Linked DNA regions of Homo sapiens. The protein of the gene in region 6 interacts with the protein of the main gene of each other region in a pairwise test. Each region holds a gene or a part of one and is shown on either strand. Other genes may lie near its edges. The genes, in order: TTYH1, TRPM4, OSTC, SAP130, G6PC3, CCR9 and ADGRG1.

Region 1 (2,991 bases), on a different chromosome or scaffold from region 6:
CTCTCCTCCATCTTCATCTACCCAGGAACGTGAGAACTGCTACTTCCGTTTCCCTTCTCCCTCCCGGCAGCGGCACCTCCTGCAAGAGCATCCTCCCCTGCACCAAGCGCCCACAGGCCAGCCACCGCCAGCTCCGCCTTGGTCCAGGGGCGAGGGCTTCATAACCTGGGCCCTGCTGACATTTTGAGCCAGATCATTCTCTGTGGTGACGGCGCTGCCCTGTGTGTTGTGGGGTGCTGAGCAGCCCCACTCAGCTCCACCCACCAGATGCCAGGAGCACCCCCTCCTGCAGTGTGACAACCAACAGCAACTCGGCACCCGGCCAGGTGTCCCTGGGGGCAGAACTCCTCACCCAGCCAGGTGTCCCTGGGGGCAGAATCACTGGCCTAGAGCACGTGGAACAGCACGTCGAAAAACCAACCAGTGGCTCAAGATGACACCGCGCACACAATACACACTCAACATGCCAACAAATGCTGGCTCTGATGACTGTCGTCCCAAGAAATCAGCAGAAACGGCCTTCACCGAGTGCTAAGCACCTGCACAGCGTATGTATTCAGTGGGGGTTGACAGAGCCTGCTCTGCCCCAGGCGCTGCCCCCAGTACCAGGAAACTTCGGTAAACAGGACCGAGAAGGTCATCTCAGAGGCTGGTGTGCAACGAGGTAGGAGGGCGGGGGTCAGTGCAGGGCAGGGGTAGGTCGGGTAACCCCACTAGCAGGGATGGGTCCTCCAGGAAGGAGCCAGGCAGAGGGCTGTGCAGAGGAAGCTGGGAGGGGCTGAGGCCAGAGGCAGACAGATCCAGGACTGACCACCCAGGCCCTTGTAGGTCAGGGCGAGGAACAGGGATTTTAATCCATGTCTGAGGGGAATCACTGAGCGTTTTAAGCAGAGGAAGAACTTGATCGGATTGTGTTTTAAAAGGATCACCTGGCTGGCTGGCTGCTGCATGGAGGACAGACGGGGGTAGGCGAGGGGGGACAGGGAAGAGGCCCCTGTGGTCATGGTGGCTAGGATGCGGGGACCAGGGCACAGCAATGGTGGTAGGAACAGCGGTGGGAGTCCATATAGGTTTCAGAGGAAGGGCCAACAGAACTTGTTCTGAGAATGGTTGTGGGAGCTAAGAGCCTGAGTTTCTGGCAGGAGCACCTGGTTGAGGTGGGGTGTCTGTTACTAAGCCAGTGAGGGTTGGGGTACGGACCTGTCGGGGCAATGGAGGCTCTGTTTTGAGAGTATTGGTACATGCACACTGTCCTTCATCCTCACAACAGCCCTGCCAGGCAGACACTGACCCTCTCACGCTGCCGCCTCTTGCAATGGTGGAAAGAAGTTGCAGCCCAGAGAAGGCAAGCTACTTGCCCAGAGTCACACTGTCTGGAAGGGGCAGAAGCGATATTGGAGCTGATTCTCTTAGGCTCCAGTGCCCTCCCTCCTTCATCCTCATCCCTGATGTCCCTTATTGTTGATTTTTTTTTTTTTAATAGAGATGGGGTTTCACCATGTTGGCCAGGCTGGTCTTGAACTCCTGAGCTCAAGGAGTTCTGATCTGCCCCACTGGGCCTCCCAAAGTGCTGGGTTTATAGGCACGAGGCACCCATCCCTAGCCCCCTCCTATTTTTTTTTTTTTTTTTGAGACGGATTCTCGCTCTGTCACCCCGGCTGGAGTGCAGTGGCTCGATCTCAGCTCACTGCAACCTCCACTGCCCAGGTTCAAGCAATTCTCGTGCCTCAGCCTCCTGAGTAGCTAGGAATACAGGGGTGTGCCACCACGCCCGGCTAGTTTTTTTGTATTTTTAGTAGAGATGGGATTTCGCCATGCTGGCCAGGCTGGTCTCAAACTCCTGACCTCTGGTGATCCGCCCACCTTGGTTTCCCAAAGTGCTGGGATTACAGGCGTGAGCCACAGTGCCCGGCCCCGCCGCTTATTCTTGATTTTAATCTGTGAGGACCCTGGCACACTGACAGGGGAGATGGAGACCCAGGGTCTCATGGTGCAGTGGTAGGGAAGGGTAGAGTGATCTGTCCTCTTCCTTCCCTTCCCTCCCTCCACAAAGGAGTCTGGGGGCCTGTATTCCAGCCCAGTTTCTGCCTAGGCCACAGAAAAGCGCCTGAACCCCAGTTTATCCTTATGCAAAAGATCAGGGCAGCCCTGGGCTGGGTGGGGGCCCAGCCTTTCTCAGCTCAATAGTCAGCAATTCTGAGCATGGCTTCAGTGCTTACTCCCCACTCCCTTTTTGGAATGCCAGTTCCAGAAGGGTGGGAGGCAGTGGGAGCCACAGAAGGGGTCTGTCTGAGCCAGACCAGGGAAAGCTCAGATCCATGCGATGGCGTAGACAAATCCCTCTTGGGTAGGGTTGCCAGATCAAATTCAGGACTTCCAGTTACATTTGAGTATCGGATGCCCAATACATAATTTTCTAGTATAAGTATCTCCCCAGCATTGCACCGGGCGTACTTATAGCAGAGTGGTTTGCTGTTTGCTGAATCTGGCAGCCCTATTCTAGGGTCCATGGGGGGATGGATGGGGAGGGGGCCATGCTTCCTTCTGCAGGGGAGAGAACGAGGCCTCAGCTGCGGCAGGGGCATTGGGCATTGAGAGTAGATGGATGAAGACATTCCAGAAGCAGAAAGGACAAAACTGGGCAACTGCCTGGCTGTGGGGGGCAGAGGGCGGGGCCCTCCGGAAGGTCCCTCTCTCCTCAGTGTGCATGGGCTGGCTGGCCGTGTGACCTTGGGAAGGTCCCTCAACTCTGCTCCTCATCTTCTAACCTGTTAGGTGGGATAATCATAGTTCCTTCTTCATAGCATTGTTATGAGGCATCGATGAGTTACCACCTGTGAAATGCAACAGGGTCAGGTACTTGGTGAAGCTATGCACATGTGAGGTCTTTGATGGGAAGACTGGCCGGGGAAAGGCATCCTCGGGTGTGTGTTTTAGAACAGCTCTTACTGGTTTTGTTTGTTTGTTTGTGACAGAGTTTCGCTCTTGTTG
Region 2 (4,021 bases), on a different chromosome or scaffold from region 6:
CCCTCTCTCTCTGGGTCTCTGTCCCCGTCTCTCTGGGTCTCTGTCCCCGTCTCTCTGGGTCTCTGTCCCCGTCTCTCTGGGTCTCTGTCCCCCTCCCTGTGTGCCCCGCTCCCATGTGTCCACAGTTCCTCCGGCTCTCTGACCGAACGGATCCAGCTGCAGTTTATAGTCTGGTCACACGCACATGGGGCTTCCGTGCCCCGAACCTGGTGGTGTCAGTGCTGGGGGGATCGGGGGGCCCCGTCCTCCAGACCTGGCTGCAGGACCTGCTGCGTCGTGGGCTGGTGCGGGCTGCCCAGAGCACAGGTGACCGAGGGTGGGTGGGGGCTGTCTCCTGGGCCTCGGCCTGCCTGCCATCTCCCCCACGACTGTGGGTGGCCTCCCCCGCCGCCCAGTGTGTGTGTGTGTCTCTGTCTTATTCTTTGTTTCTCTCCCCCTGCCTCTGCATGTTCCTCGGCGTCTGTGTAGGAGCCTGGATTGTCACTGGGGGTCTGCACACGGGCATCGGCCGGCATGTTGGTGTGGCTGTACGGGACCATCAGATGGCCAGCACTGGGGGCACCAAGGTGGTGGCCATGGGTGTGGCCCCCTGGGGTGTGGTCCGGAATAGAGACACCCTCATCAACCCCAAGGTGTGACCCAGGGACTTGGAAAAGGGGGCTGGAGGCCTGGACTCCTGGGTCTGAGGGAGGAGGAGGGGCTCGTGTTTGTCCTTCTGGCCCCGATGAGGAGACGCCCTGGTCTGGCCATTTTTCCCCTAGGGCTCGTTCCCTGCGAGGTACCGGTGGCGCGGTGACCCGGAGGACGGGGTCCAGTTTCCCCTGGACTACAACTACTCGGCCTTCTTCCTGGTGGACGACGGCACACACGGCTGCCTGGGGGGCGAGAACCGCTTCCGCTTGCGCCTGGAGTCCTACATCTCACAGCAGAAGACGGGCGTGGGAGGTGAGTGGTCGAACCCATGACCCACAACCCACGACCCACAACCTGCAACCCCAGCGCTCAGGATCCCAGTAGTTTGGTCTGGTCGAGATTTGGGGAATTACCTATGGTTAAGTGTCTTTCCCCGTCATTATTCATGGTTTTAAAAACTTCTGTCTGAGAGTGAGTTAGCTCACATCAGTAATCCCAACACTTTGGGAGGCCGAGGTAGGAGGATTGCTTGAGGCCAGTAATTCAAGACCAGCCTGGGTAACAGAGCAAGACCTTGTCTCTACCAATAATAATAATAATAATAATAATAAAGAATAAAAAATAAATTAGCCAGGTGTGGTGTCGTGTGCCTGTAATCCCAGCTACTTGGGAGGCTAAGGTGAGAGAACTGCTTGAACCCGGGAGGTGGAGGTTGCAGTGAGCCGAGATCAAGCCACTGCACTCCAGCCTGGGCGACAAAGCAATACTCCATCTCAAACAAACAAACAGACTTTATTTTGAAATTTCTCATACATACAGAAAAATGCACGAAGGTGGACAGCTTGATGCATTTTTTTCTTTTTTTGAGACGGAGTTTTGCCCTGTTGCCCAGGCTGGAGTGCAGTGGCGCGATCTCGGCTCACTGCAGCCTCTGCCTCCTGGGTTCAAGCAATTCTCCTGCCTCAGCCTCCTGCCTCAGACTCCTGAGTAGCTGGGATTACAGGCACGTGCCATCACACCCGGCTAATTTTTGTATTTTTAGTAGACGGGGTTTCACCGTGTTAGCCAGGATGGTCTTGATCTCCTGACCTTGTGATCTGCCTGCTTTGGCCTCCCGAAGTGCTGGGATTACAGGTGTGAGCCACCGCGCCCGGCCTAATGTTTGTATTTTTAGTAGAGATGAGGTTTCACCTTGTTGGCTAGGCTGTTTTCGAACTTCTGACCTCAAGTGATTCGCCCACCTCAGCCTCCCAAAGTGCTAGGATTACAGACGTGAGCCACTGCACCTGGCTCCGGCTAATTTTTAAAGTTTTTTGTAGAGACAGGGTTTTGCCATGCAGCCCAGGTGGCCTCAAACTCGTGGTCGAAAGTGGTCCACCTGCCTCAGCCTCCCAAAGTGCTGGGATTACGGTCGTGAGCCACTGCGCCCAGCCAGCCAATATCTTATAATTTTATCAAAACATGAACAAGATACATTACTAGGTTTGAGGAAAGTTTTTGATTTTTGTGTATTTTTCTTGTATCAATCCTCTTACCAAATTTTCTTATTGATCTTTATTTTTATTTTTGGTGGGGTTTTCCAATTTTCTGGGAATACAAGCCATGTTTTCTTCAAATAGGTACTTTTGTCCCTTCCAGCTTTACAAAAAACCAAAAACCAAAAAATCAATTTTCACTTCAGTGATTTCATTTTTTTGCATTATTGAGTTAGCTCAAAACTCCAGGATGAATACAGTGTTAGTGGTAATGTGGTCTAGTTTCTAATTTATTTATTTATTTTTTTGAGAGGGAGTCCTGCTCTGTGCACAGGCTGGAGTGCAGTGGCGTGATCTCAGCTCACTGCAACTTCTGCCTCCTAGGTTCAAGCGTTTTTCCTGCCTCAGCCTCCCGAGTAGCTGGGACTATAGGCACGAGCCACCACTCCCAGCTAATTTTTGTATTTTTGGTAGAGACGGGGTTTCACCATGTTGGCCAGGCTGGTCTTGAACTCTTGACCTCAGGTGATCCACCCGCCTCGGCCTCCCAAAGTGCTGGGATTACAGGCATGAGCCACCGCACCTGGCCTAGTTTCTAATTTTAATGGAAGTAGAGTCGATATAGTGCTATCTTTATGGTGCAATTGGATTTTGGTAAATATCTATATTGTGGTTAGATAGCCCTTTCTATTCCCATTTCCTTTACTTTCTATTTGAACTTTCACTCCCTCTGGCTCCTGGATGGTTAATCAATGACAGGATTGACTCATACAAGAAACACCTGCCTCATTCAGGGACTCAGGAGTCTAGGTCCTCAGCCCCCTCCTCCCTGGGGAAGTTAAGCATTACTGTCTTCAAAATCTAGCTCCCTCCTGAAGTGTCCAAAGACATGACAATTCTGGCCAGGCGCGCTGGCTCACAGCTGTAATCCCAGCACTTTGGGAGGCCAAGGTGGGAGGATCCCTTGAGTCCAGGAATTCGAGACCAGCCTGGGCAAGATGGCAAGACCCCTGTCTCTACCAAAAATTAAAAAGTTAGCTGGGCACGGTGGTGTGTGCCTGTGGTCCCAGCTACTTAGAAGGCTAAAGTAGGAGGATCAAGATGTAGTGAGGTGTGATCATGCCCCTGCACTCTATCCTGGGCGATAGAGTGACACCCTGTTTCAGAAATTAGGCTGATGCGGTGGCTCATGCCTATAATCCCAGCACTTTGGGAGTCCAAGTTGGGAGGATTGCTTGAGGCCAGGAGTTCGAGACCACCCTGGCCAACATAGCAAGACCCCCATTTCTAAAATAAATACATAATTAAGTAAAAAAAGAAATGACAATTCCAATGAGCCTCTGAACAGAAGATTAGGACAAGGCTGATGTTTGCCGACTCCTGGGAAATGCGGTTTTCTCCTATCTCCAGCAAAGGCTGATGGGAGGTAATCAAGCCCCCTTCTCTTCTTGCCTCAGGGACTGGAATTGACATCCCTGTCCTGCTCCTCCTGATTGATGGTGATGAGAAGATGTTGACGGTATAGGGGCCCGGATGCCCGGATCTAAGGGGGAAGGAGGGTTGGGGGCCAGGACTCCTGGGTCCTGAGTCTTAGGGAGGGTCTGGGGGTCTGACTCCGGGTAGGGTGAATATCCTGCCTTTTCTGACGTGATGAATAAAGAATGCCTTTATCCTGTAGCGAATAGAGAACGCCACCCAGGCTCAGCTCCCATGTCTCCTCGTGGCTGGCTCAGGGGGAGCTGCGGACTGCCTGGCGGAGACCCTGGAAGACACTCTGGCCCCAGGGAGTGGGGGAGCCAGGCAAGGCGAAGCCCGAGATCGAATCAGGCGTTTCTTTCCCAAAGGGGACCTTGAGGTCCTGCAGGCCCAGGTATGACACTGGGGGCCCAACTCTGGATCCTGAGATGGGAGGG
Region 3 (4,021 bases), on a different chromosome or scaffold from region 6:
TGAAACAAGAAGTTTATTATTATTAACATAAAACTTCAAGAAACACATCTAACCAATTCAAAATTAGTTTGAATTGATAGTAGAAATTTAAATAGCATAACTTTTTAAAAAAAGCTAACCTAGACCGGGCGCAGTGGCTCACGCCTGTAATCCCAGCACTTTGGGAGGCCGAGATGGGCGGATCACGAGGTCAGGAGATTGGGACTATCCTGGCTAACCCGGTGAAACCCTGTCTCCCCTAAAAATACAAAAAATTAGCCAGGCGTGGTGGCACGCGCCTGTAGTCCCAGCGATCTGGGAGGTGGAGGTTGCAGTGAGCCGAGATCGTGCCACAGCACTCCAGCCTGGGCGACAGCAAGACTCAATCTCAAAAAAAAAAAAAAGCTAAGCTAAAGTTCTGGGTAAAGCGTTCGTATACATAAAATATGAGTATTTATTTTACATAAACAGTTGTGTTAGTTGAGGTTTTACGACATTTTTTGAATGTGAACTCCATGAAGACAAAGATTTTTGTCTGTTTTATTCATTGTTGTATATCCCCCAGAACCTAAAACAGTGCTTGCTACCTAATAGACTCAATAAATATCTGTTGAATGGACAGATGAATATCCAGAGGTATAGTAAAATAGTTGTAAGGCTAAGAATAAGAAATATAGCACAAAAATGTTTTGGCACAAAAACGGAAATAGGAATTTCAATTTAAGGGAAACATTTCTATTTGTTATCTTTCTATGGTCATTCTTTTCTTTTCCAGAGTAAATGGACAATATATTATGGAAGGACTTGCATCCAGCTTCCTATTTACAATGGGAGGTTTAGGTTTCATAATCCTGGACCGATCGAATGCACCAAATATCCCAAAACTCAATAGATTCCTTCTTCTGTTCATTGGATTCGTCTGTGTCCTATTGAGTTTTTTCATGGCTAGAGTATTCATGAGAATGAAACTGCCGTAAGTTATTTGTGTAATCAGCACCTTATGTTGCAAATTGGTAAAATGATTACCTGGAAAATGTAAAGTCATAGGACATTTAATTTAACTTTCATTTACATGGGTGAAAAATCCAGAAACCAAATATATTTGTAACTTGGTCAGGTTACAGCTATAGTTAATAAAAATTGAAACTAATAGATCTTCTTAGTTGTTATCCCCATGAATGTTCATGAGAGAAAATTTAGTTACTTTGTCCTGGCATCAATGACTGAAGATAGTCATTGTTTCTTTTTTTTTTTTTTTTTTTTTTTTTTTTTTGAGACGGAGTTTCGCTCTTGTTGCCCAGGCTGGAAATGCAATGGCACAATCTTGGCTCACTGCAACCTCTGCCTCCCGGGCTCAAGTGATGCTCCTGCCTCAGCCTTCTGAGTAGCCAGGATTACAGGCATGCACCACAGCACTCAGCTATTTTTTGTATTTTTAGTAGAGGTGGGGTTTCACAATGTTGACCAGGCTGATCTTGAACTCCTGACCTCAGGTGATCCTCCTGCCTCGGCCTTCCAAAGTGCTGGGATTATAGGCATGAGCTACGGCGCCCAGCTGTCACTGTTACTTTAAAATGCCTTTTGGCTAATCTGTAACACAGAATTCCAGTAGTATTAATGGTAGGGAATAGCTTCAGATCACTCACTGTTGCTGCTCTTTGAATATTGGTAGGAAGAAAACCCATTATGCCTTGTAAGGGAAAAGAGAGTTATTGCCCTTCAAAAAGATAGGAAAAGGATATTTATATATTTGTGTGTGTGTGTGTGTGTGTATGTGTGCGTGTTTAATGTGTATTTAAAGATTATTTTGATTCAGAAAACTTTTCAATATCTTTAGAGGAAAAATAAGATCGTTTATGGCATCTTTCATAATTCTGTTTAAGATTATTTACTTGAAATGTGAACAAATACAATCACATTTCCATATATTCTAATTTAATTCATGGATGCATTAGTAACTACAGTAACGACAGGAAATTTGGGCAAGCATACCACAAATATTAGCTCTTAGTATTTTATTTTTAGTATTTTATTTTTTAGGGACTGTGTTAAACATCAAGTGTCAACTATACTGATTTCTTAGTGTGTTTGAATTTTACAAATTCACTTGTTCTGTGACTTAACCTGTCCATTGTCTGTAACACACCTGGGGTAGAATGGGCAAAAGTACATGATGATCCCACAATCATCATGTTCCCATTTTAGTCCTGGCAGGATGGGAGGGAAAGCATGGAGTTCTTTGTCAGCTGAATATCTGTGTGGCCATATAGCTGCTCAGTTTCCTCTGGCAGCAGCTCTTTTTTTTTTTTTTTTTTTTTTTTTGAGATGGAGTCTCACATTATTGCCCAGGCTGGAGTGCAGTGGTGCAATCTCGGCTCACTGCAACCTCCGCCTCCCAGGTTCAAGAGATTTTCCTGCCTCAGCCTCCCAAGTAGCTGGGATTACAGGCGCCCGCCACCACACCCAGCTAATTTTTTTTGTATTTTTAGTAGAGACAAGTTTTCACTATGTTGGCCAGGCTGTTCTGGAACGCTTGACTTCATGATCGACCCGCCTCAGCCTCCCAAAGTGCTGGGATTATAGGTGTGAGCCACTGTGCCCGGCCAGCAGCTCTTATTTTCATTTGGGGAAGGCATTTCTGGCCATTGGCTAAGTTGTGTGAAGACTAAGGTACTCCAGCCTCTTATTGTTCCTTGTTTTTCTGCTCCTAGTGGAAGTAAGTCACCATAGCCTGGTAAGGTGTACTTGTATAGAAAAGACTGAAGTTTTCATTAGCAGAGCAAGAAAAGAGGAGACTCCCAGATAGAATAAAGAGGTTACTGAAAGGCTCATGCCTGTAATCCCAGCACTTTGGGAGGCTGAAGCGGGCGGATCACAAGGTCAGGAGATCAAAACCATCCTGGCTAACATGGTGAAACCCCATCTCTTACTAAAAATACAAAAAATGAGCCAGGCATGGTGTCGGGTGCCTGTAGTCCCAGCTACTCGGGAGGCTGAGGCAGGAGAATGGCGTGAACCCAGGAGGCAGAGCTTGCAGTGAGCCAAGATCGTGCCACTGCACTCCAGCCTGGGCGACAGAGTAAGACTCCATCTCAAAAAAAAGAAAAGAAAAGAAAAGAAAATTTACAACCAAAACAAAAGAAACCTTTGGAGGCATGTGTCAGAACAGAGAAAGTGTCCTGGTTTTGCTTATAGAATCAAATATGTTCTCATTCTACCTACTGTTTTCATTCTACATAGTGTTTTCCTTCTTTATAGTTTTACGTCCTCTTCCTAGGAATGAGTCTATTAAGAAAATAGGTGTTATCTTTTAGCTTTGGCATTTGACTTTCAGGATAATAGAGCTATCTGCTACTGACAGAAAAGCTTTGACAAGTGTTTAATACTCTGGATTACCTTCATCTTACTTTTGCAATCATTTATGTGAACATTTGTCTTCCTGTCCACATTCTATAGGCTAGTATGTAACACCGTTGACTAAATCCAAACTTTAGGCTAGGGAAAAAGGGTATACTTTCTGGGTTTCGGTTGTAGATTATGTTTAGATCTAATCAAAACAGGACAGTGGTCCAAACAGAAAATTGCTATTTTCTGTATCTTGTAAATCTAGGATTTGAGTTTTTAAGATGAATTTATGGTTCCCTTTCTGATATCATTTCTCATCTGCAGCTCCTAATGCCTGGTACCTTGGGTATGGAGTGAGGAGAGACAATGGACAGTTTTATATAAGAAATGGAAGTAATGATACTATCTTTCCTGGAATATTTGCAGGCCCCAGAGGAGATGATGAGCAAGGACTGTTGGCCTGTATTACACACAACAGGGTTGTAGTTACTATCCCAGCAAGGAAAGGGTGTATCTTTCTTCTTTCATGCAAATTATCTATGATGACCTAACAGTTTGATTATAGTGAGTGGACTAACCACAACAATAAAAAAGATGTCAAAAAAACACCAATAGCCACTGGTTTTTCCAAATCAACTATGTTTCTAGCATCTGAGATAAAGGATGGCTGTATCATAAGATGCACCATGATAACCTC
Region 4 (4,021 bases), on a different chromosome or scaffold from region 6:
GCAAGCAGGGTTTTTTTCCCCCCCTGAATATTTAACATCCAAAGTTGGTTGAATTCACATCAGGGAACCCATGGATACAGAGGGCTGATTGTATACACATAGATAAAACTTGGTTTTTAGTCTTATACCCTTTGAGTGGTAGAAATTAGTGGTTCTCAGTGACAGGTGTTTGGGGAGGTGATTTTTCCTCCAGGGGAGTACTTGGCAATATCTAAAGACAGTTTGGTTGTCACAACTAAAGAGTACTATTGGCATCTGATAGGTAGAGGCCAGGGATACTGCTTAACATCCTGCAAGGTAATGGGAAGCCCCCCACAACAGAGAAGTATCCAGTCCAGTCAGCAGTGCTGAAGTTGAGGAATTCCTTCAAATACTCTTTTTCTCTATGTATTAAGTAAATATATGACATTGCAAAGTGAAATAAATGCTTTTCTATTCCTTTTTCTTCACCACTGGATTCTGGTGTTCCTTATGGTAAATGATACCACTGTCTACTCATTGCTCAAACCAGTAGCTGAGGCTTTTTTTTTTTTTTTTTTGCGCAATAGGGTCTCACTCTGTCACTCAAGCGGCAGTACAGTGGCATAATCACAGCTCACTGCAGCCTCGATCTTTTGGGCTCCCCAGCTAATTTTATTTTATTTTTTATTTTTTTAATTTTTTTGAGACAGAGTGTCACTCTGTGGCCCAGGCTGGAGTGCAGTGGTGCGATCTCAGCTCACTGCAGTCTCTGCCTCCTGGGTTTAAGTGATTCTTGTGCCTCAGCCTCTGAGTAGCTGGGATTACAGGCATGCGCTACCATGCCTGGGTAATTTTTTTTTTTTTTTTCGCATTTTTAGTAGAGACAGGGTTTCACCATGTTGGCCAGGCTGATCTCGGACTCCGGACTCCAGACTTCAAGTGATCCACCCTCCTTGGCCTCCCAAAGTGCTGGGATTACAGGCATGAGCCACCACACCCAGCCACATGTTCAGCTAATTTTAAATTTTTTTGTAAAGAGGGGATCTCACAATGTTGCCGAAGCTGGTCTCAAACTCCTGGACTCAAGTAATCCTCCGTTCTCAGCCTCCCAAAGTGTTAGGATCACAGGTGTGAGTCACTGTGCTGAGCTGGAAGCATCTTTAATTGCTCTGCGTTTTCTTATGAGCTATGGCCCTTGTCTAATGTTCCAGCCTCATTTCTTACTATTTAGCCTTCCTCCTGCCAACCTAATTTTTTTTTTTTCCAATGGAGATGGAGTCTTGCTATGTTGACCAGGCTTGTCTCAAACTCCTGGCCTCAAGGAATCCTCCCGCCTAGGCCTCCCAAAATTCTGGGATTACAGGTGTGAGCCACTTGGGTGGCCGCCAACTTAGTTTTTGTTATAAATTTATTTTAGTTCTCTTTAGACTTGAAGTGACTTTAAGCTACTTATGACTCCTGCTCGATGGTATCTACTCATATTTCTAAATAAATGATTAAAAAATTCCCAATTTCACGACTTTGGGACTTTGCACATTCTTTTCCTTTTGCCATAGTCTTCCTTGTTTCTTTCCATATACTTACTTATTTGGCTAATTCCTTCTTTTTTCAAGTTTCAACTTAGATGTTATTTTCTCTAGAATATTCTAGAGAATATTATTATTCTCTAGAATAACAGAAGACTCTATCTTCCATAACAACTCAGGTAGAGAATCTAGAAATAGAACCAGATATATATAGCCAATTGATTTTTGATAAAAGTTCCTAAGTAATTCAATAGGGAAATGATAGTCTTCTTTTTTTCTGAGACGGAGTCTCACTCTGTCTCCCAGGCTGGAGTGCAGTAGCATGATCTCGGCTCACTGCAAGCTCTGCCTCCCAGGTTCACACCATTCTGCCTCAGCCTCCTGAGTAGCTGGGACTACAGGCGCCCACCACCGTGCCCGGCTAATTTTTTGTATTTTTTAGTAGAGACGGTGTTTCACTGTGTTAGCCAGGATAGTCTCGATCTCCTGACCTCTTGATCTGCCCGCCTCAGCCTCCCAAAGTGCTGAGATTACAGGCATGAGCCACTGCGCCTGATGGTCTTTTCAGTAAAATAGTGCTGGAAGATCATAACATCATTATGGGGGAATAAAGGCTGTGTGCAGTAGGCTCATGCCTGTTATCCCAGCACCATGGGAGGCCAAGGCAGGTGGATCGCTTTGAGCTCAGGAGTTTGAGATAAGCCTGGGCAACATGGCAAATCCCCGTTTCTACAGCAAATACAAAAATTAGCCGAGGCCAGGCTAATTGTACAGTGGCTCATGCCTGTAATCCTAGCATTTTGGAAGGCTGAGGTGGGCAGATCACCTGAGGCCAGGAGTTCGAGACCAGCTTGGCCAACATGGTGAAACCTGTCTCTACTAAAAATACAAAAATTAGCTGGGCGTGGTGGTGGGTGCCGGTAATCCCGGCTAATCGGGAGGCTGAGGCAGGACAGTCACTTGAACTTTGGGAGGCAGAGCTTGCAGTGAGCCAAGATAGCGCCACTGCACTTCAGCCTGGGCAACAAAGCAAGATTCCGTCTCAAAAAAAAAAAAAAATTAGCCAGGTGTGATGGCTCATGCCTATAGTCCCAGCTACTTGAGAGGCTGAGGTGGGAGGATCGCTTGAGCCTGGGAAGCGGAGGTTGCAGTGACCTGAGATCTTACCAATGCACCCCAGCCTGGGTGACGGAGTGAGATCTTGTCTCCAGGAAAAAAAAAAACAAGAACTTATAACTCAGTAGTAAAAAGACAAACAACCTGATTTTTTTTAAGACGGGAAAATATTTGAGTACAGAAGAGCTAGATAAGTGCCAAAGAAGCACATGAGAAGATGCTCACCATTATTAATCCTCAGGGCAGTGCACATTAAAACCACTGTGAGAAACTACTGCACATCCAGTAGAAAGACTGAAATTACAAAGACTGACAATACCAAGTGTTGGAATGGTTGTAGCGCAAATAGAACTCATACTTTATTGTTGGGAATGCAAAATGGCTAGCCACTTCAAGAAACAATTTGGCAATATCTTATAAAATTAAATATACACTTACCACACCACTGAGCAATCTCATTCCATAGGTATTTATCAAAGGTAAATGAAAATATATGTTTATACAAGGACTTATATTCACATGTTCGTAGAAACTGTATTCATAATAGCCAAAACAGGGTTCTCACCAAATGTCTATCAGATGGTGACAGGATAAGCAAATTGTTGTGTGTCCATCCGTGCAGTGGAATGCTACTTGGCAATAAAAAGGACCAGACTACCAGTATACACAACATTATGGATAACCCTCAGTAACATTACACTAAGGAGAGAATCCAGATACATAGGACTACAGATGGTATGATTGTGTTATGTGAAATTCCAGAAAAGACTATGCCATAGTGACAGAAAGCAGATCAGTGGTTTCTGGAGAATAGAGGTTGTGGGGAGGGAATTGACTGCAAAGGGGTGTGAATGAACTCACTGGAGTAACAGGAAATGATCTGTATCATGATTGTGTTATACCGCTGTATACTTTTGCGAACACTTATCTAATGTTACACAAAGAATTAGTGAATTTTATATGTAAATTGTACCTCAGTAAAGCTAATTGATTAAAATGGACAAAAGATAAACATGCACTTCACTAAAGAAGATATATATGAATGGGCTGGGATCACATAAAAAGATGTTCAACATTACTAGTCATCATGGAAATGCTAATTAAAACTACAGTGAGACACACACTACAACCCACTAGAATGGCTGTATATCAAGCAATGAGTAAGGAAGAGGAGCAGCTTGTATACTGCTAATGGGAACAGGCAATGCTACAATCACTTTGGAAATGACTTCGGCAAAGTTAAACATATACTTACCATTTGACCCAACCATTCTGCTCCTTGGTGTTGCTGAGGATATTTGTAAAAAAATTATTGAACTTTTCTTGTAAACCAGTGGTGGTATTCTATGTAATCTATTCCCCAATAAAGAGGTTTTATAGATCAAAATTTTAAAAATTCTGAATGACCTGGGAGAAAA
Region 5 (3,631 bases), on a different chromosome or scaffold from region 6:
TGTAGAGATGGGGTTTTGTCATGTTGCCCAGGCTATTCTCGAACTCCTGGGCTCAAGTGATCTGCCCGCCCAGCCTCCCAAGTAGCTGAGACTATAGGTGTGCACCACCACTTCCAGCTAATTTTTTGTTTTTGTTGAATCTGGGTCTTGCTATGTTGCCCAGGCTGGTCATGAACTCCTGGCTTCAAGTGATCCTCCAGCTAAGGCCTCCCAAAGTACTGGGATTACAGTCATGAGCCACTGTACCTGGCCCCAGACTAGTTTTTAAAAATAGTGTTTCCACAGGCTGAGGGTTAGGAAAAAAAAAAGAAAAGAAATAGTGTGCTTTCTTTCTCCTGTTCTAAGGTAGAAAACCATGGCAAGGTATCCATGGATACCTTGAGAGCAGTGGACAGAATCGTAGTCCCTTTTTGACTTCACCCCTCAGGCCCTCCAGAGTACTCTGTGTCCTGCCCGCCTTGTACCCCCCCTGGCTGTGTGTGCATGTGGAAAGTCATCTTGCATCTGTTCTCTTCCAGGTTTCTTTTTGGAGACAGGCCCTTTTGGTGGGTCCATGAGTCTGGTTACTACAGCCAGGCTCCAGCCCAGGTTCACCAGTTCCCCTCTTCTTGTGAGACTGGTCCAGGTGGGAAGCCTCAAACATTCTCCCTTTCCCAATGTGGTTAGGGTTCGGGTGAACATTTCAGAGTACTTTTCAGCCTGGGTGGCCCAACCAAAGGACCAGCCTCTCAATTACTGGCGCAGAGAACAAAAGAACCCCAGGGAGACCAAGCTGAGTTATGGGAGGAGGGCACTCATGCTATGTACCAGCTGCCCACCTTGTATAGAGGACAGCCAAGAGACACAGATCAGGACAGAAACCTGAGCACAGTGACCTCAAGTGGCAGTAAAAAGGCCTCAGAGCAGAGCGAGTTATGAATCAGTGCTGGGGAAAAGCTCTTCTCAGCCAGGAAAGGCAGCTGTATTATTGAGGCATCACCAGGGGCCCCGGGGTTCTGCCTCCATCTTCTCACCACGAGCTTCTGGATTTGCTGGCAGGCAGCCCTTCTGGACACTGCATGATCACAGGAGCAGCCCTCTGGCCCATAATGACGGCCCTGTCTTCGCAGGTGGCCACTCGGGCCCGCAGGTATACCCTTGGCATTGCCCACCATTGGGAGCAGGGGTGATGGCACCCTGTACCTAATAGACACAGCAGCATGGCAGCCTGGGAGCTGGAGTTTTGGGGACCCTAGGTTGTGTGGTTCAACCATGGAGTACCTGGGTGCTGCAGGAGGCCAAGCTGTGTATGGACACGCTCTGAGCTCCTTGCCTCTCTTCTTTCTAGCCGCTGGGTAAGGGTGATGCCTAGCCTGGCTTATTGCACCTTCCTTTTGGCGGTTGGCTTGTCGCGAATCTTCATCTTAGCACATTTCCCTCACCAGGTGCTGGCTGGCCTAATAACTGGTGAGCAACTGGGGCAACGGGGTGGACTGAGAGGATGCCTTTGGCAGTGGGAGGATCAGTCTAGGATCTTCCCATCGCTCCCAGCTTCTGTAGAGCCCACCCCAGAGGCCCCCCGTTATGTCTCAGTTTATTCTCTTGCCAAGCTGCACTGCAGCTGGGGGTCGGGGTGGGGAGGGTCATATCCCCAGACTCCTTGAAGCTGTTGTCACTCCACTCTCCTAGGCGCTGTCCTGGGCTGGCTGATGACTCCCCGAGTGCCTATGGAGCGGGAGCTAAGCTTCTATGGGTTGACTGCACTGGCCCTCATGCTAGGCACCAGCCTCATCTATTGGACCCTCTTTACACTGGGCCTGGATCTTTCTTGGTAAGTCTCGCTTTGAAGCCTGGGCAGGCTGGGCCCTGTCCTATCTCGCCTGCACCTAGCCTGGTGTGTCTCTGGTTCATTATAGCTAAAAAAGGACACATTACCTATTCACATAGACCCTCACAGGCACAAAACAGAACATGGGAGTGGGCCCCAAGGGCAGATGGCCAAGAGCCAGTGGCCTTCTATGTTCCAGCCTCTCCTGGCAAGAACTCTTCTTCCCCACAGGTCCATCAGCCTAGCCTTCAAGTGGTGTGAGCGGCCTGAGTGGATACACGTGGATAGCCGGCCCTTTGCCTCCCTGAGCCGTGACTCAGGGGCTGCCCTGGGCCTGGGCATTGCCTTGCACTCTCCCTGCTATGCCCAGGTGCGTCGGGCACAGCTGGGAAATGGCCAGAAGATAGCCTGCCTTGTGCTGGCCATGGGGCTGCTGGGCCCCCTGGACTGGCTGGGCCACCCCCCTCAGATCAGCCTCTTCTACATTTTCAATTTCCTCAAGTACACCCTCTGGCCATGCCTAGTCCTGGCCCTCGTGCCCTGGGCAGTGCACATGTTCAGTGCCCAGGAAGCACCGCCCATCCACTCTTCCTGACTTCTTGTGTGCCTCCCTTTCCTTTCCCTCCCACAAAGCCAACACTCTGTGACCACCACACTCCAGGAGGCAGCCCCATCCCCTTCCAGCCCCTAAGTAGGCCCTCCCCTCCCTAAATCTGCTTCCGCACCACCTGGTCTTAGCCCCAAAGATGGGCCTTCTCTCTCCCAGATAAGTTGGTCCTCCCTCTGCCTTTCCTCTCAAGCCCCCAAAGAGCAAAGGCAACAGCAAGACCAGCGGGTTCTTGCAACACTGTGAGGGGCAGCCAGGGCGGCCCCAATAAAGCCCTTGAATACTTTGAGATTCCTTTCTTGCCTATGCGCACATCTCCATGGGCCTTGCCTGTGTGTGCACAAGTGGAACCTTTGCCAGGCTGCTCCAGTAGTCTCTGTGCCATCTCCAGCCCTGTTTCCAGGGGCAGAGAGGCAGGAAAGGAGAGGGCTGTAAACTCAGGTGAGACCTCTCAGCCCTGGGTCCCCTGCCTCATCACTGCCTAGGCCACATGAGAGGTCCCATGAGATGCTGTGACTATATTCGGTATAACCCTGTCTTTTCACTTACAGGACAGATCTTGCGCCCCAACCTCCAGTTTCCTAAATCGGCTTCTAGTCCAGGGGCTGGAGAAAAGAGTAGTGTGTTTGGCTAGGAAGGAGGATGAGAACCTCTACTCCATTTGGGAGCCCAGAGAATAGAGACATTGGCCCCAGAAGGCACTGCCAGAAACAAGTTTATTTACACAAGGACACACAGTGTAACGGGTTACAAAATACTTAACTGAAATCCATATCCAGGGAGACAAAGCAAGGAGTGGGTTTACATGAGAACCAGACCAGCCACAGGGAGAGAGTGGGTAAGGGGCCGGGAGCCTGGGGCTCAGCACAGAGAGGCCTAGTACACTGAGCCTGGCCCCATCCCCATCCCCCAGGAGGATCTAAAACAAACACACAAGCACACTATGAACCGATGGTGCTGGGACTCCTGCCCCTCCCCTGGCTCCCTCAATCCTGCTCAGGCCCCCATAGGATAATAAATATGTAAACAGATTGGTGGGGCCCTGGAGATAGAAGGAGAGAAAGTATATGTGGTACTGGGGAGGAGGAGGAAGGAAGAGTCAGCCCCCTAGGAGCCACTTCCCATCTTTGGTTTCCTACAGGCTGGATGGCATCCCCTGGAAGCCTTGTAGGCCCACAGCCCCTGGCAGGGCTCCTGGGAAAGAGAAGGGACAGCGC
Region 6 (4,632 bases):
ATTTTCTGGAAGGAGACTGAACCACTGTGACCAGTGGAAAATGAACTTTCATGTTTTCATTTAGATTTTGCAAACTATTTAAATATCTTACCAAGTGTGTAAAATTTTATTTTAAGAGCTGTCATAAAAATAACTTGTCAGATTTAAAAAAAAAAGAAGAAGAAGCCCAATGCTCTAACGTTCAGCACACCTGTTTACAAAACTCATCTAGAGGAGGAACTTGTAGCCTGCTCCAGCTACCGCAGAAAGAGCAAGTCTAGTAATTACATTCACCGAGGCTACTTTATGCAACTAAGTTGTACACTAGCTTTCTATAAAGGTTTCTCTTTATTTTTTTTTTTAAAGGTAATATATAAACACAAGCCAGGCAAGATGGCTCATGCCTGTAATTCCAACACTTTGGGAGGCTGAGGTGGGAGCATCACTTGAGGCCAGGAATTTGAGATCAGCCTGGGCAACAGAGCAAGACCCCATCTCTACAAAAAATTTAAAAATATGCCAGGCATGGTTGCCTACCCTGTAGTCCCAGCTACTCAGCTGGCTGACGCAGGACAATCGCTTGAACCCAGGAGTTCAAGGCTGAAGTGAGCTAACATTGCACTGCTGCACTGCAGCCTGAGTGACAGAGCAAGACCCTGTCTCTAAAATAAATAAACAAATAGTATATATCATGTAATATATTATGGTGTATAATAGAATGTAATATATTACAGTTTATAAAATATGCATCTGCTTCTGGCTCATAGAAAATTTGGAGAGAGCCAAAGAGTAAAAACAGGACATACCCCTCCCTAGAGCCCACATCTAGAACCTCCACAGACAGCCTTGCCATCTATTTCTCTTTCATTTTTGTCAGAATACTTCTCAAATATTTTATTCTCCCAGCTACTAAGTCTCAGTGCTTGCTTTCATTTTTGTCTTGCCAGTGAGAAAGCGGGAAAAATATAGGGGGGAAAATCCCACATATGACCAAACATACTGAGAGTGAGGACCATCTCAGCGGTCTGTCGGGAGTGGATGGGCAGTTGACTCAGCACTGTGGCAAATCTCTCCCTTGCTGCTCAGTGAGGCCTTGTTGCAGGTGCCATGGGCCATCCATCGAACCCACTTATTCAATGTGCCTTGAGTACCTGATACATTTATTTGGCTTAAACAATGTGTAAGACATGATCCATGTCCTCAAGAAGCTTGCATTCAAATACACTGAGTAAGTCATGGCTGCAAATAACAACAAAGGGAAAGTGCTATGAGTTGTGGTAGGAATTGGAAGAAGGAGGTCATGTCTTTAGCTCTGGGGAGAATCCAGGAGGGCTTCATTGAAGAGGTGACATTTTTGCGGGTCCTTGAAGGCCGAAGAGCATGGAGACATGCAACGAGGGGAGGGAACATTGCTCCAGGGTGGGAAAACATATGCACTAAGGCATGAAAGTCAGAAAGCATGGGGTATGTGCAGGGACCTGGGAGATAAAGGAAGGGAGAGAGCTGCTAATTCTCCAAAAGAGAAAAGTGCCTATTAGAAAAGTTAGCTTGGAACCTATTATTATCCAATCACTATTTTTGTATTCTCTAACATTCTTACGTAGCCAACATGAAAATCAGCATGGGGTTATTGTGCACACAGCATCTCCCCACACTTATAGCCTCTGATGCTTACAGCACTAACATCAAATCAGATACTAACATGAGTCAGGAATGCAGGTCCTTACTTTGAACTTTGTACAATTTGCTACACGGAGCTTGAATCATCTCTTACATTTTTTCATAGCTCTGCTTTTTGTTCCCTACACGAGGCAGGGTCTCTGAGCCATCTATCAGATCCATCCACTCACCATGCCTGGATCAGATGCCTGCCAACCGCCCAGCAGGGGCTGCACAGGGCCCAGGGGCTCCCAACACAAGCCTGTGAGTGAGGCCTACACAAAGAGGCTTCAGAACAGATAAGCAGATATTGGAAGAAAAGGACTCCGAAATTCCAGATGCTGAAATAGTAAATTAGCTTTTGCTCGTTCAGGAAAGGGAGTAAGGAGATGGGATCCCACAGACTGGCTGCTGCACAGCCCTTCCGGTTCAGCACACAGTGACCACTCTCTGGATGGACTTGCCAGCCGTCTATGGAGTAACAGCTAATTCAGAACTAAAGAGGGTAGGTGTGTTTGAAAAGGCAAACCAGCATCCACTGATGAGTCATTTAAAATAACTTTTTGCTTTACTCTGATCATAAAGGAGTATTTTTACAATGCACAAAAAATCCCCAAAATGCCAACATACATAATATAGAAAATAAAAACTCCTGAAGCACCCTTTCCTAGTTTAGCCATTGTTAAGTTTCTGAGATACTTCCTTTCTGACTTTTTCTCTGTAACACAACCTCACACACACACACACACACACACAGACACACACGCACTTAATAGAAAGGAAATCAGACTACACATATAATCTTCTATCTTGCTTTCTAATTGCCCATCTTTCATGGATCACCTTCCATGCCAATTCAACATAGAACCGTATCATAGAATTGGATGGCTGCTGTGTATTCCATTGTCTAGATACATCACAATTCATTTAACCATTCGCCTCCTGATGCATAGTTTCCTTGTTTCCAGTTTTTCACTGCTACAAAGAATCCTTTCCATGGGGCAGTGTCTCAGACTCAAGGACCTCATGGGTGTGTCCTTTACCCCTGGCCACCATCTTGTCCCCCAGCACCTGCTTCTCCTTCCTTTAAGGTATAAATCACAGACTGCCTTAAGCCTAAGCTTCATGTATGTGAAGGGGGAGGGAGTTTTATTACTCGCCCTACAAGAAACCTGGGTTGGGCATCACCAATTCCCATTTACCTTCCTGGAAGTTTCTAGAAAAGTGCCTGGTGCCCATGACCTCTGAACAAATGAGTGCAAGCCCAGGTTTTAGAAGCCATCATAGCAGCACACAACTGAGGGCCAAGATGACACTGGGTTGGGGGCAACAAGAAGAAGAGCAATACTCACTGTGGAGGGCGATGCAACTCTCCCTGGGACAGCAGGCACCACCAGCTCTCAGTGTCTGGGGAAAGAGCTGGGTTGCTCTCTGCCTGGGATGAGGGGCAGGCTTTGTGGGTTCTGAGCAGGCAGCTACCCGATAACAACACGAGAAAGGAAGCCAGGCCACCCCTGCCTGTGTTGTCACTGGTGGGGTAGCCCAAGAGGGTGGGGAGTCACCTGTGTAGCTTCCAGCAATCAGCGGAGTCAATCATTTGCAACCAGAAACAAAAAGCTGAAAACTGCTGGGATAAGGGGAAACTGTCTCATCTGAAGACGCACATACAGACTGATGATCTAAGAGCAAATTCTCTTCCTAGACAGCACAGCTGCTTACAGGGAATGGGGAAATTGGAGGATCCCATCGAGAGAAGTCAGCCTTGTCAGGCTTGCCAGAGGTGCACACTGATGAGATTTCTTTAGGTGGTGTCACCTGAGCAGGCCTGTATCAGATTACCACCCAGTGGCAGATGTAGCACTATCCATCGCAACATACCTTTTCTGGCCTTGACAGACGTACCAGAACCCGGAGGGCTGTGCTATCCAACACAGTAGCTACTAGGCAGATGTGCCTATTTAAATTCAAATTAATTAAAATGCTAACTAGGGCCAGTGCAGTGGCTCACCTCTGTAGTCCCAGCACTCTGAGAGACTGAGGCGGGCAGATCACTAGGCAGAGCCTAGGAGTTCAAGAACAGCCTGGACAACATGGTGAAACCTCATCTCTACAAAACACACAAAAACAATTAGGCAGGCATGGTGGCCCATGCCTGTAGTCCCAGATACTCAGGGAAGCTGAGGTGGAAGGATCAGGAGGCAGAGGTTGTAGTGAGCCAAGATTGCACCACTGCACTCCACCCTGGGCAACAGACTGAGACCCTGTATCAAAAAAGAAAAATGTTTTAAGTGTTAACTAGTTTCTCAGTCATGCCAGGTACATTTCAAGTGCTCAATAGCCACATGCAGCTAGTGGCTATCCCAATGGACAATGCAGATACAGAACCTGTCCATCGTCGCCAACAGTGCTATTGAAAGGCACTGCTTTAGAAAGTCTGCCTGTGAGATGTAGCTAGGAACACATGGAGTGCTGGAAAGCCACAGACACCTTCAAATTGGGGCAAATCTAGTAAGGTTTTGCACATCAGATACATTAACAAAGATAATACAATAAATTGTATTAATTACAGGTGTTTTGGTAAAACTTTGAAAAAAGCTAAATATACAAAATATTGCATTTTTAATGAAGATCACAGACGAAGTCTTCCCATCCACTGCTACAGTGGGGACTTCAATCCTGATGTGATTAATGATTTCCTGTCATTGTTATGACAAAGATCCCTTTTATATATTTGTTCTGGGGGAAAATCATGACTACACTCTTGTGGATGTTAATTTCCACCTCTTGGTGTATTGATTGTCCCGAGGACTCAATGCCGCTCTGTCATGGCGTGGTACTCCCAGGCGCATGTCCCCTTCATCACCCTCAGTTCCCGTAGAGCAAAGGGATGCAGAAGGTGCACTTGGGTTTATTGTCTAAATGGAAAAAGGCCAACAAATAGGTCATCTGAAAGGTAGAGGGCATGCACAGTAAGAACGAAAGAGGTGTCTGATT
Region 7 (4,614 bases), on a different chromosome or scaffold from region 6:
GCAGCCCCGGGAGAGAGCAGAGGGTATGACATGGGCCCAGTCCCCACTGTGCCTCCCTGCCCCAGGTATTGGCCCACAGCCTGGACTGGGGACTGTGAATGTGGGAAGCACAGTGCCGTTTTCTGGAAGCTCTCACCTTATGGCCTCCCTGCACCCCACGGGGTGGCTTTGTGGCCCTTCCTTTCTGCAGCTTGATTTCAAGCAGGTAGGTGAGGAGTGCAGTTCACCTGCAGCAGCCCTGGCTCCTAGGCTGCCCGAGACGTTCCATTCATTCTTCCTCCACGTGGCATGGGGAAGCTTTTCCTGGCCCCCTTGTTTAGAAGGCAGATCTCTACCGGAGAGAAGGAATCTCAAGTTCCCCAAGCATCCACGTGTCCAGGCCCCAGGCTGAGGCCTGGGGTGCTGGATTGCTGAGTGGTTAGGAGACCCGCTATGGAGCCAGACGGCCTGTGCTCCCGCCATCCCAACTCGGGCACCTCCCTGCTGTGTGATCTTGGGCAGGTTAATTCTCATCTCTGAGCTACATGTATCTGCCTTAAGCTCCCTCTTCTTCATCACCACATTCACAGGGAGTATTTATTGAGGGCTTGGCAAGTACCAGGCACTGGTCTGAGTAGCAGGTTTGACTTCTCTCCACTGCCAGGGGCGCTCTGGAGCTGGAATGCAGACGGTGGTCAGCGAGTGTAATTACTGTTATTGTCACCACTCACCCTTCTGGCATTGTAAAAGCCTCCCAGCACATCTGACTGAGGAATCATCTATCCTCATTGCTCGGAGGAGGAGGGCAGACAGGAGCCTCTGCAGGGAGTGTGAGTTATCCAAAGCCTCCTGACTCGAGAAGGGCACTGAACCCCAGCAGCGGGAGGTGCTGCTGACAGAGGAATGACCAGAAGGGGGATGGGGCATGGTCCATTTCCACACTTCTCTGTCTGAGCTTTTGGGGCCACTGGGAATGGCTCTTCACCCAGGCCTCGGTTTCCCCTTTGGCTCAGCAGATGGATTAAAGGAGGCCGTTTCCAGAAGCCCCTGGGGTCTCAGAATCCAAAATGACTTGGGATGTTGAAACTGTGGGTGCTTGAGGAGCACTGAGAGGGGAGACGGGTCACCCCCCGGGGGGACGCAGGTCAGCCGGTCAGTCGTGCGTGGCCTGGCTGGCCTCCTGCCCGGCTGCCTGTCACCCGCTCCCTCCCGACTGCCTTCCGCTCTGCCGGTCAGCACTGGCTCCCGTCGGCTGCCAAGGAGGCTGGACTCTCCTTCAGGAAAGGGCAGTTGTCGCCCTGACCTGGGGGGTGGGCGGACAGCATCCAAGGGCCCTGTTGCCGTGGCAACCCCGGCCTCTCTGTGGGAACTTTGGGGAGACTGGCCCTGGGAGGCGACAGATGGAGGCTGAGGAAGCAGAGTGATCCCCGGCCCCTTCCTGTCCCTGAACACTGTCTGCCTGGATGAGGGGTGAGGCTGAGGTGCCCCCTTGCCCGGCGCTGAGTCATGGGCATCCCCCAGGATCACTGCCTCAGCGCTCTCAGCCCTGCCCCCTCCTGGTCTCCCTCTGAGAAATCCATGACTCACATATATCGTCCGTCATCCCCAGTCAAGCTCAGGGAGGAGGGAGGAGCCCAGCTGGGGCAGGAGAGGGGTGTCTCCCCACCAAACAAACCCGGTCCCTCCCTCTCCGCACTAGCTGTCTGCCCTGCCCTGCCGTAGGAGATGGGCTGGGAGCCTCCCACGCTCTCCAGCTCACTCGGCAGGCAGCGGGGACCAGGGCTGGCAGGTTAAGCCTCTGGGGGTGGATCCTGAAAGGTGGTCCAGCCGCCTGGCCCTGCGTGGGACCCTCCACCTGGCAGCAGGTACCCAAACAAGGGCTGGACAGCAGGTGGGAAGGGGAATAGTGTGAGTGTGAGAGTGTGAGTGTGTGAGCGTGAGTGTGTGAGAGTGTGAGTGTGTGAGTGTGAGTGTGTGAGAGTGAGTGTGAGTGTGAGTGTGAGCGTGAGAGTGTGAGAGTGTGTGAGTGTGAGTGTGTGAGAGTGAGTGAGAATGTGAGTGTGAGTGTGAGAGTGTGACTGAGCGTTTGAGTGTGAGAGTGTGAGTGAGTGTGTGTGAGTATGAGTGTGAGTGTGAGTGTGGGAGTGTATGTGAGTGTAAGTGTGGATGTGTGCATCCGTGCACGGGTGGCTGTTGGACAGTGGGTAGGGATGGTGGTGAAATGGGGAAATGGGGGGGTCTTGGTATCTTGGTGGGATCTAGTCCAGGTCAGCATGGCTGTGGGTGGGTCTCTAGAGTGGGGGCGGACCCACAAGGAGATGCCTGGGAGGGGACTGGGGCCCAAGGGGAGCGACACCTCCCGGGGCTCCCAGGCATTTTGTTGCTGGAGAAACTGAGGCTCAGAGTGGTACAGTCACTGGGCCCAGCAAGCTGGGGTCTGCTCTTTAGGCTGTGAGATCAGTGCTCCTACTACACAGATGGGAGAACCGAGGCTCTGGGAGGGCAGGTGGCTTGCCCAAGGTCACCTAGCACATCCAGGTATAGAAAGCCAGGGGCCAGGCTCAGGGAGGGGGTGGCACTTGAGGGAACTCCTGAGGACAGCTTTCCTGCAGCTGTCCCTGGGGCTGGGTCCGGGGTCCCCACTGAGCAAGGGACAGCCGTGCTCTTCATCACCAAGGCCAGCTTTGGGAGAAGGTGGCCCCGCAGGGTCTCTGAACGTGGGCCACGTGGGTGAGAGTCCTGGAACCGGTGACAGGCAGACGGGGAAGCGCAGGCTGCGGGCTGAACACCCTGCCCGTTGCCACCAGACCTCAGGGCTCCATCTGCCTGGCACTGATAGGACTTCCCACCCTGGTCCCCGCGGGGGCTGGGAGTGTGTAGGAAACCAATGATTCCTGTCCTCCCCCGTCCCCAACCCACCTCCCCTGCGTGGTAGAGTTGGGGTCTCCCTGTGCCCCACTGGGAGAGGTCTGATGTTCATTTTACTGCGTAGGGAGGAGGGGATGGGTCAAGGCAGGGGCCTCCCACCCCCACCAATGTGGAGCAGTTGTAGCCTGGGGTCCACGGGCTGTGTAGGAATAGCCTTTGTTGCTCCTTCAGTGGACCAAGAAAGTTATTTATAGAAGCATTTATTGAGCGCTTACTGTGCACTCTGTGCTCTGTCGGGAACATGGCCGTGGGTGAGGCAAATAAGGTATCTCAGAACTCGTGAGTGGCCCAGACCCAGAGCCAAGCCCCCTGCCCCTCCCAGAGGATAGCCCCGGGCAGCCTGTTGGCTCCTTGGGGTCAGAGACTGTGTGAGAAGGAGCATATCTGGGCATTAATAACCATGGGCTGCCAAGTTGGCTCCCCAGAGCCCAGGCAGGGGTCCTGTTGGGCTCTTTCCTGCCAATGTCCAGGTGTGGAATGAGCTCTTAGGGCCAGACCTGACCCCTTCTTTGCTGCAGGGACCCGAGATATGCACCCACCTTGGTCACAGCATCACTGTGGCCCCCTTGCCCTTCCTCTCCTCTCGCCTCAGGAGCTCAGCTGCTAAATGGGTGTGTAGGGGTGATCACAGCTGCCCTGGCTCCCGTAGGCCTGGGGCTTGGCTCCGAGAGTGTCGGGTGATGGAGAACGCCGCTCCAGGTGTGATCTGTGACGGACAGGCTGTGTCCCGGCCTGGGCCACTGGGCAAGGGCCAGTCAGCCTGGTGTGACACTTCCTTTTGTCAGGGATACAAACAAACAAACAACAGTTAGGAGGTGAGATGGAGGCGTGAGATAAGCTTGCTAACAGAGGGCCCAGAGAAGGGGAAGAGGACCAGGGAGCCTCTGCGGAAGGCACTTAGGCTGGGCTTGGGAGAAGGTGGGAGGGGAAGGGACTGATGTCTGTATGAGCACTGTAGGGGGAGTCCTAGTGGAGGAAACTACTTAGGAAAACATTTGGGGAACGATACAAGCTGGGGACCACGGGGAGGGTGATACCGGACCCCTGGCATGGGTCATTTCATGGGACTTGATGAGCCAGGCCAGCAGGTCTCAATCTGCTCTGTGGGGGGGAAGAGAGGCAGGAGGACTCGCCAGGCAGGTGCTGTGTGGGGCTGGGGGCCCAGGCTGCAAACCCAGCAGGACGGGGAGGGCCAGGATGGGTGTTCAGTGTGAGGTTGGCCAGGCAGTCCCAGTCTCTGGCTGCTGGGTTAAGGCTCAAGCTTGGGAGCAGCTTCACGTGTGAGGGAGACGAGGGGGAGGTGGCGCCCAGTCGAGGGGAAGGACAGGAGAGAGGTGGCAGAGCTGCAGCAGGGTTGGTGTAGGGGTTGGCCTCCTGGCAAGGCCCAGCATGACAAAGGCAGGTAAGAGGAGTGGGCAGGACAGCCATGGAGGGACCACTGCGGACCGTCCTCCAGCCGGACTGGGATGCGGGTTCCGCCATCCTGTGCAGAAGCTGTGTGCAGGTGGGGTCTGGGGGGCTGTGCCATTTCAGGGATGCAGGATGGGCTTCCATGTGGCAGGGCTCCCAGGGAGGCCATGGAGGAGGCCGTGGGGAAGTCGGGTGGAAGTAGGGAGGAGAGGGGAGTGTGACAACAGAGCCCCAAACCCCAGCACCACCTCCTCCTCCCAGACTGGAGCTTGATCAGGGCTCAGCCCCCGTCCCCAT

What was found.
Region 1: the proteins of CCR9 (region 6) and TTYH1 interact in a two-hybrid assay, tested with the Homo sapiens proteins (one large-scale study listed by BioGRID and IntAct).
Region 2: the proteins of CCR9 (region 6) and TRPM4 interact in a two-hybrid assay, tested with the Homo sapiens proteins (one large-scale study listed by BioGRID and IntAct).
Region 3: the proteins of CCR9 (region 6) and OSTC interact in a two-hybrid assay, tested with the Homo sapiens proteins (one large-scale study listed by BioGRID and IntAct).
Region 4: the proteins of CCR9 (region 6) and SAP130 interact in a two-hybrid assay, tested with the Homo sapiens proteins (one large-scale study listed by BioGRID and IntAct).
Region 5: the proteins of CCR9 (region 6) and G6PC3 interact in a two-hybrid assay, tested with the Homo sapiens proteins (one large-scale study listed by BioGRID and IntAct).
Region 7: the proteins of CCR9 (region 6) and ADGRG1 interact in a two-hybrid assay, tested with the Homo sapiens proteins (one large-scale study listed by BioGRID and IntAct).

What each region holds. Positions count from the first base shown.
Region 1 is NC_000019.10:54,432,199-54,435,189, reverse strand, and holds part of TTYH1 (protein tweety homolog 1), read right to left. Parts: intron 1-2,991. UniProt on the Homo sapiens protein: Calcium-independent, swelling-dependent volume-regulated anion channel (VRAC-swell) which plays a pivotal role in the process of regulatory volume decrease (RVD) in the brain through the efflux of anions like chloride and organic osmolytes like glutamate.
Region 2 is NC_000019.10:49,167,792-49,171,812, forward strand, and holds part of TRPM4 (transient receptor potential cation channel subfamily M member 4), read left to right. Parts: coding exon of another isoform or gene 1-125; coding exon 126-306; intron 307-468; coding exon 469-632; intron 633-761; coding exon 762-945; intron 946-3,565; coding exon 3,566-3,627; intron 3,628-3,786; coding exon 3,787-3,978; intron 3,979-4,021. UniProt on the Homo sapiens protein: Calcium-activated selective cation channel that mediates membrane depolarization. While it is activated by increase in intracellular Ca(2+), it is impermeable to it.
Region 3 is NC_000004.12:108,656,696-108,660,716, forward strand, and holds part of OSTC (oligosaccharyltransferase complex subunit OSTC), read left to right. Parts: intron 1-754; coding exon 755-952; intron 953-4,021. UniProt on the Homo sapiens protein: Subunit of STT3A-containing oligosaccharyl transferase (OST-A) complex that catalyzes the initial transfer of a defined glycan (Glc(3)Man(9)GlcNAc(2) in eukaryotes) from the lipid carrier dolichol-pyrophosphate to an asparagine residue within an Asn-X-Ser/Thr consensus motif in nascent polypeptide chains, the first step in protein N-glycosylation.
Region 4 is NC_000002.12:128,021,522-128,025,542, reverse strand, and holds part of SAP130 (histone deacetylase complex subunit SAP130), read left to right. Parts: intron 1-4,021. UniProt on the Homo sapiens protein: Acts as a transcriptional repressor. May function in the assembly and/or enzymatic activity of the mSin3A corepressor complex or in mediating interactions between the complex and other regulatory complexes.
Region 5 is NC_000017.11:44,073,642-44,077,272, forward strand, and holds the end of G6PC3 (glucose-6-phosphatase 3), read left to right. Parts: intron 1-518; coding exon 519-625; intron 626-1,038; coding exon 1,039-1,129; intron 1,130-1,327; coding exon 1,328-1,446; intron 1,447-1,668; coding exon 1,669-1,810; intron 1,811-2,038; coding exon 2,039-2,402; 3' UTR 2,403-2,703; downstream 2,704-3,631. UniProt on the Homo sapiens protein: Hydrolyzes glucose-6-phosphate to glucose in the endoplasmic reticulum. May form with the glucose-6-phosphate transporter (SLC37A4/G6PT) a ubiquitously expressed complex responsible for glucose production through glycogenolysis and gluconeogenesis.
Region 6 is NC_000003.12:45,885,014-45,889,645, reverse strand, and holds the start of CCR9 (C-C chemokine receptor type 9), read right to left. Parts: upstream 3,104-4,632; 5' UTR 2,991-3,103; intron 1-2,990.
Region 7 is NC_000016.10:57,626,959-57,631,572, forward strand, and holds the start of ADGRG1 (adhesion G-protein coupled receptor G1 isoform b precursor), read left to right. Parts: upstream 1-1,671; 5' UTR 1,672-1,844; exon of another isoform or gene 1,845-1,870; intron 1,871-4,614. UniProt on the Homo sapiens protein: Adhesion G-protein coupled receptor (aGPCR) for steroid hormone 17alpha-hydroxypregnenolone (17-OH), which is involved in cell adhesion and cell-cell interactions.